2 linked regions of the Homo sapiens genome follow. The gene in region 2 interacts genetically with the main gene of each other region. Each region holds a gene or a part of one and is shown on either strand. Other genes may lie near its edges. The genes, in order: NUP85 and YTHDC1.

The links.
Region 1: changes in YTHDC1 (region 2) and NUP85 together harm fitness more than expected from each alone (negative genetic interaction), as found in Homo sapiens cells (one large-scale study listed by BioGRID).

What each region holds. Positions count from the first base shown.
Region 1 is NC_000017.11:75,232,969-75,236,579, reverse strand, and holds the end of NUP85 (nuclear pore complex protein Nup85), read right to left. Parts: intron 3,523-3,611; coding exon 3,422-3,522; intron 1,944-3,421; coding exon 1,792-1,943; intron 1,481-1,791; coding exon 1,379-1,480; exon of another isoform or gene 1,378-1,378; intron 1,003-1,377; coding exon 901-1,002; 3' UTR 822-900; downstream 1-821. UniProt on the Homo sapiens protein: Essential component of the nuclear pore complex (NPC) that seems to be required for NPC assembly and maintenance. As part of the NPC Nup107-160 subcomplex plays a role in RNA export and in tethering NUP96/Nup98 and NUP153 to the nucleus.
Region 2 is NC_000004.12:68,332,977-68,336,797, forward strand, and holds part of YTHDC1 (YTH domain-containing protein 1), read right to left. Parts: intron 422-3,821; coding exon 332-421; intron 1-331. UniProt on the Homo sapiens protein: Regulator of alternative splicing that specifically recognizes and binds N6-methyladenosine (m6A)-containing RNAs.

The sequences.
Region 1 (3,611 bases), on a different chromosome or scaffold from region 2:
AGACGCCATTCACCCTGATGGAGGAAAAGGTACCACCTATGAATTCTAGATATACATGAGGACAGCCTATGATAGAACTGCCCAAGGTTTTTGTTAAAAGTGCGGGTTCCTGTACGCTTATATTTTAAGGGAACTAAATAACCAAAATGTTAAGTGTTCCAGAAGAGGTGAGGCAAGATTTCAGAAGCACAAGTATACCACCAAGCGTTCTTGTTCAGACTTCCAAGACACTGCAGTCACCACAACTTTGGGGTTTTTTTTTTTTTTTTTTTTAAACAGAGATGGAGTCTCCCTATGTTGCCCAGGTTGGTCTCAAACTCCTGGGGTTGAGGGATCCTCCCAAAGTGCTGGGATTACAGGACGTGAGCCACTGCACCCGACCTGGGGGGTGATTTCTTATCTAAGGAGGCACAGGAAGACAGTTGCGTATCAGAACATAAAACAAGGCCGGGTGTGGTGGTTCACGCCTGTAATCCCAGCACTGTGAGAGGCCAAGGCGGGCAGATCACAAGGTCAGGAGTTTGAGATCAGTCTGGCCAACACAGTGAAACCCCATCTCTACTAAAAATACAAAAAAATTAGCTGGGTATGGTGTGCACTTATAATCCCAGCTACTTGGGAGGCTGAGGCAGGAGAATCACGTGAACCCTGGAGGCGGAGGTTGCAGTGAGCTGAGATCGTGCCATTGCACTCCAGGCCAGGCAACAGTGCAAGACTCCGTCTCAAAAAAAAAAGAACATAAAACAAGCATTTTTTAATCTCTTACCACCTCAGGTTCAGACTAGACAGATAAAAAATTCCCTGGGTGGACTCTAAGAACCTACATTTGCAAAACAACATTTATTCTTTTAAAAAAATCTATATACATTGCCATACAAAGATACCACATTGAAGCAGTTCTCAGGAACCTTCCAGTGAGCCTTCTCTTATAATTGCCCGAGCAAGATTTCGTGCCAGAGAAAGTCTCAGCATTTCCACCTTGGTGGTCTCTATGTCATCATCCTGCAAAGCAGAGAGCGCCAGCATGAGCTAAGAGCAGGAAGGAGCCCTTTCACACTCCCGAAGGGTCTAGCTAATCCAAAGGTAGAGGGCACTTAACATTCATAGTAGCTTCCAGCAAATTATCGATGTAAAAGAAAGCAATACCAAAGGGCCATACTGGAAATGATGAACAGCAAAGAACAAAATGTAGAGATGAGAACACTAGAATCCCTGATTTTCTCCTAAAAGAAGGTGGTGTGTGAATTACACAGGTTAAGGGGAACAGAGGCACATGTGTCCATAGGAGCCAGTGTTTCTGGAGGGAAGGGGAAGCCTGAGATAGAGGGAGCCTTTTCCCACCTCCATGTGGAACCATCAACCCAAAAGTGAAAATGACCTGGAGCTGCTCGGTATCAGATTCTCCATGCACAGGTCTTCTTGACGTCAAGTCCTCCAGACACCGCATCAACTCATAAGTCTGTTCTGCTGAGAAAATCACCTAGGGAAGAGAGCCTGCCTTGCTTGGCTGCCCCCAGCCCTGGCCTGCATTGGTTGGGGCAGGGGCCCATGTTCGGACGTTCTTCCTTTCATACCCTTCGCAATAGTGTGCTTTGTATACGAATACCTCATTTCAAATCAAGCAGTGTTTGTTTCCTGTGTGAGTCTGGAATCCCAGAGAGGGCGCTAAGGGGAATACACGCGCACAGGCAGAACGACAAAGGAGGAAACACGCACATCGGCAACAGCTATACAACTAAGCTCTAGCAGGGACTGACAAGCAAAGAAAACCACTGCTGCTGCAACCTTCACCTGTTTCTGTTCCAAAAGGGGCAAGGCGTCTGTCAGCAGAGTCATCCAGAAAGACCGAGGGGCAATCCGAGACGTCATCAAGGACAGAAGGAGAGAAGCTGCGTCGGCAAAACGCTTCTCCCCGTACATACGGTGGAACTCGCGATACTTTCCTATGGCGAAACAAGAGCACTGAGTAACCTGCATATTCCCCCAAATTGCCCAAGTGACACCTACAAAAGTCACCCTGGCCCTAAACAGGAGAAGAAAAACCTCAGACCAGCCACTCCACAAAGCAGGAGATTTTTTTCTGTCTCCAAACTCATAGGTCCCAATGAGATGCAGACCAAGAGCATTCAAAACAGACTTGGAAGAACTCCGAAGAGCCAAATCTGGGGAAACATCAGAGTCAAAATACATAACAAGAGTCATGGATTAAAAGAGATTGACTAGGCCAGGCGTGGTGGCTCATGCCTATGCCTGTAACCCCAGCACTTTGGGAGGCCGAGTCAGGTGGATCACCTGAGGTCAGGAGTTTGAGACCAACCTGGCCAACATGGTGAAACCCCATTTCTACTAAAAATACAAAAATTAGCCGGGTATGGTGGCATGCACCTGTAGTCCCAGCTACTCAGGAGGCTGAGGAGGAAGAATGGCTTGAACCCGGGAGGTGGAGGTTGCAGTGAGCCAAGATTGTACCACTGCACTCCAGCGTGGGCGACAGAGTGAGACTCCGTCTCAAAAAAAAAAAAAAAAAGAAGAAACATGGAGGCACTGGCCAGGCACAGTAGCTCACACCTGTAATCCCAGCACTTTGGGAGGCCGAGGCGGGCGGATCACTTGAGGTCAGGAGTTCCAGACCAGCCTGACCAACATGGTGAAACCCCATCTCTACTAAAAATACAAAAATTAGGCGGGGCGCAGTGGCTCACGCCTGTAATCCCAGCACTTTGGGAGGCCGAGGCAGGCGGATCACAAGGTCAGGAGATCAAGACCATCCTGGCTAACACGGTGAAACCCCATCTCTACTAAAAATACAAAAAATTAGCTGGGTGTGGTGGCGTGCGCCTGTAGTCCCAGCTACTTGGGAGGCTGAGGCAGGAGAATTGCTTGGACCCGGGAGGCGGGGGTTGCAGTGAGCCGAGATCACGCCACTGCACTCCAGCCCGGGTGACAGAGTGAGACTCTGTCCCCAAAAAATAAATAAATAAAATACAAAAATTAGCCAGGTGTGGTTCCGCGTGCCTGTAATCCCAGCTACTTGGGAGGCTGAGGCACGAGAATTGCTTGAAGTCAGGAGGTGGAGGTTGCAGTGAGCCTGGCAGCCTGGGCCACAGAGCGAGTAAGATTCTGTCTCAAAAAAAAAAAAAAAGAAAAAATAAAAGAAAAGAAGAAAGAAAGAAAGAGAAAGAGAAAGAGAAAGAAAGAGAGAAAGAAAGAAAAACAAACAAACAAACAAACAAACATGGAGGCACTAAGGAGATGTGACAGCCAAACTCATGATCCTGGACATGACGGAGGATGTTTCTGGGACCACTGATGCAATGGGAATACATGAAGGAAGCGCTGGGAGAAGTCTGACGTGATCCCTCCAACCTCCCCAACTACCCACTTGTGCCCAAAGCACAGGGCACAAAACCCAGAGACTCACCCAGGAATGTCAGTCGGTCACTGAGCATCATGGCTGGCCCCAGGTTGTCAATGAGATCCAAATCAGAAAAGCAGCCTCGCTCACAGTAATCCCTGAGGAACCTGCAGGGCCCGGCCCAGAGATCAGAGCAGCAGTCTCAGGCCCACCTCAACCACCCAGTCCCTGGGAAGCCAACACTAGCGGCACCCAC
Region 2 (3,821 bases):
AAAAACTTCTCAATGTGTACGAGTGTTTTGCTTTTTGGGTTGTTTGGATTTTTTTAAAAGTATGTATATTTGAACAGTTTCCCACTCAGAAAACTAGTCACTGAATCATCATCTTCCAAGAAAAAAAAAGTGAAAATTCCACTTAAGCAGTAACAGAACAGGATTAAAATAATAAGAAAAAGCTTAGTTTTCTCTAGAATTATTACACTGAACATGCCAAAAATCAGTGCTAATGGACATCAACAAGTTCACACTAAACTACAGCCTCCACACGCTTTCTAAAGCAGATTACATTAGAATCAAGTCAGATATGATCACAAAATGAGAATACCTGCATATGACTCTGATGCAGAGCTTCCACTTCTATCAAAAACAATTGGAGATATGCCTCTAGCTCTCTTCCTTTCCTTCTTTTTCTCATCTAAAAAGAACAAGAGTTTTTTTTTTAAATCACAATACAGAAACGAAGAGAAGTAATCAAACAAGAATGTATCATTACATGTCTAGTTTTTGCATAGCCCTTCTATTAGTCTGTGCTCCTCTCTCCTGATCCCTCAATTTCCTCAGAATGTTTTATTTTAAAAATACTGTTTAAAAAGTACGGGCATCTTGTTTCTTTCATCAGTTTCAATCAAATAAAAACACACGAAATAACTACAAAGTCAGGGCCTTAATTGCCATATATAGGTGGCCTTGAATACAGTTTTCCAAGCGGGGGGGGAAATTTGCAAAGCAAAAACAATTTCTTTCAAAACTGTGTCCTTTCTACACACCAGGTAACACTGTCTTAAGTCCTTATTTTTTTAAACTCCACTACCATTCTTCAGCACAATTACAATTCTGATTCTATCTTAAGAGATCTGATGAACCCCTGAACCCAAAGCTTTACAACTGGAAAAATATATATACCATAATTAGTGATTCCCTTCTGGTTGCCATTGCTTGTTTTTGTGTCTTCTATTTCATTCTCCTTAGCCATTTCCTCCCTGGATTACTGCTCTTATTTTCAAATTCAATTTAAAATTTATCCCTACAATTTTAATGGTAGCCTGTGTATTTCTGTAAGAGAGCTGAAAATCTTCAGTAAATAGAAAAGGTTTGGATTACCTGCCATGTAAGAACCAGTCCCAAGCTTAATTTGGAACTTTGTAAGCATATACATGAGGACTTGAAATGGAATTCAGCTCTCCTATCTGTTTATTTTTATCTTAGTTTTACCATGATAAGCTCCTTTTACTTTTCAGCTTAGAGATAAGGGAATAGGAAGAAAAAAATGCATATACTTATTTTTATATAAACAATGGAAAGCTGAAAAATAATAATCAGTGATCATGTATACAATAACCTACTATATAATGACAGCTATTTAAAAAGCTTTAACTACTTATCTCCTTTAATTCTCATAACAAGTTCACAAGATATTCTCATTACAGATGAAGAAACCTTGAATTAGACAGGCAGTTAGGCAACTAGACTAGGGTCCCACAGTTCCTGGATGGCAGAACCTAGACTCAAGGGCAGGTCCTCTGGCTTGAGCAAGTAGAAAGGATGTTTTATACTATTTTTGAAAGGTGATTACAGGTTTAACTAGTTTTGGGGGCTTTTTTCATTATTTCTTTCAAAAGTTCTGACATGTTTCTTCTAATTTTTCCCCCATGGATATTTCTTTCAGTAGTCTAAGCATTATGAATGCATCTGACTGAGTGTAATTTATCTCTTGTTGCTGTTAAAAAAGAATTATTTCATGGTCCAAAGTACTAAAAAGGGCCTGGTGCAGTTGCTCGTGCCTGTAATCCCAGCACTTTGGGAGGTCGAGGCAGGCGGATCACTTGACCTCAGGAGTTCGAGACCAGCCTGGGCAACATAGCAAGACCCTCTTTATATAAAGACAAAAACAATAATTAAAAAGTTACTAAAAAGATCTGAGATAATGCAGGGAAAATAACAGAAGCAGAAGATCCTACTCAATTGTTTTTATATAATGCTAAACCTAGCATTAGCATGAGAAATCTCCAAGGAATTTTCATCATTTTTGTATGAATAACTCCCAATGCTCTTAAGTTTATGGCCCTCTCCCCCAACTATTACTCTCAGGTCAAAAGAACAATGAAAATCATCTAATAAATAAACTGTTATCAATCAGTCTGTTGCTTTTATAAAGTTACCAAAAATTCTGAGAATAAGGTAAAATGAACTGGAATCTAGAAAATTCATGACAGAGAAACTCAACTGTGATCACTTTTATTTAAAAACTGACGTCTCTTAATCAAGAAGTTCCAAAATCACCCCATTACTCTTTCATAAACTATTGTATAAAAAAAAATTTCCTGCATATTAATATAGTACCTAAAGCATGTTCCACATAAGGGATTTTCCTTTATAAGGAAAATAAAACTTTCAGGTATCTCTTTTAGAATAAACCTAGTCTAGTAACAGAGTTTTGATATCAAGATTTATTATAAAACTACAGTTACCATTTAATTTGAAATGTCTTCTCCACAAAAACAAAGTGTGTCAATCAAGTTACCTTACTATGGTATCATCTAGGAGCCTGTTACAAATGCAATTTCTGGTCCTACCCATTTAAGTAAGTTCCCTTTGTTTAATGTAAACAATACAAACATTAAAGTCTAAGAAATAACAGAGATACCAAAAAGAAGATTCCTACAACAAAACGTTCCCTACCCAAGGGAGTGGTTTCATACATTCTCCACAATAAATGAACATTCAACACATACTGCTAATGAAATATTTATTATCTTAAATTATAAAAAATATATCCTATCAGTTTGTAAAAGGCATGATGGAAGCATAAAGATTTCATATGTTTTTACAACAAATCCAACTACTCATCTATTCTGTTTAACTCTACCTCCCTTGAAAAGCCTATCTTAACTCCCAAACCTAGAATTCTAGTGAACAAAAGGTTGAAAGCACTTCAGTTGCCAATCACTAGAAAATAACTGGCCATCTGCTCTACCTATACTGTATGTAGTATAGATATATACTATCCATATAGTATAAATATATAGTATAAAATATATAGTATAGATATATACTATCTGTATATAGTATAGGTAGAGCAGATGGCCAGTTATCTTCTAGTGATTGGCAACTGAAGTACTTTTCTATACTATATATACTATATATATAAAACAATGTACTATTATAAATGATCAAATTCTATAATAAACTGTAAATGTATTTCAAAAAAATAGGAATTTTCTTATGTTTAGTACATTTTGCTTATGTAGCAATCTGGTAGCATCTTTACATAAGACAGTCATGAGATTATAATCATCATATAGTGCTCTGTAAGTACCCTGACCTCTCCTTGCTGTACCCTCCCCCAAGAAAAGTTCCCCTAAGCCTAGTGCCTCCAACTACGTAACAGTCATACATTTTTGTCTCATAGGTATAGAGAGGCAGGATATATATAGCATTGAAGAAATGACTGAAGATGGTTCTTACCTGATTTTTCCACAAGAATTTTATTTATAGTCTTCATCTCCATCTTATACCTTACACCCCAGCCCTCTTGTCGACCCTGTCTCAGCCAGTCAACTGACAGACACAAAATTAGAAGAAAAGTCTGTGCTCCCAGAGATAAAAAAGAAATAATCTGTTTTGATTCTGAAGCCATATGATGGAAATCTAGGGGTATTTTACCAAGGAAATACTGTAATACCCAGTGGACAGGTTTCCTATGAATATACTTCAAGTACATCAGTGTTTAAATAAACTGCTGACTGGTATGAAAATCTAAGAATTTACAGAAATCTGAAATACATTTCCTTATACAGAATCAAATGGACTTGTGT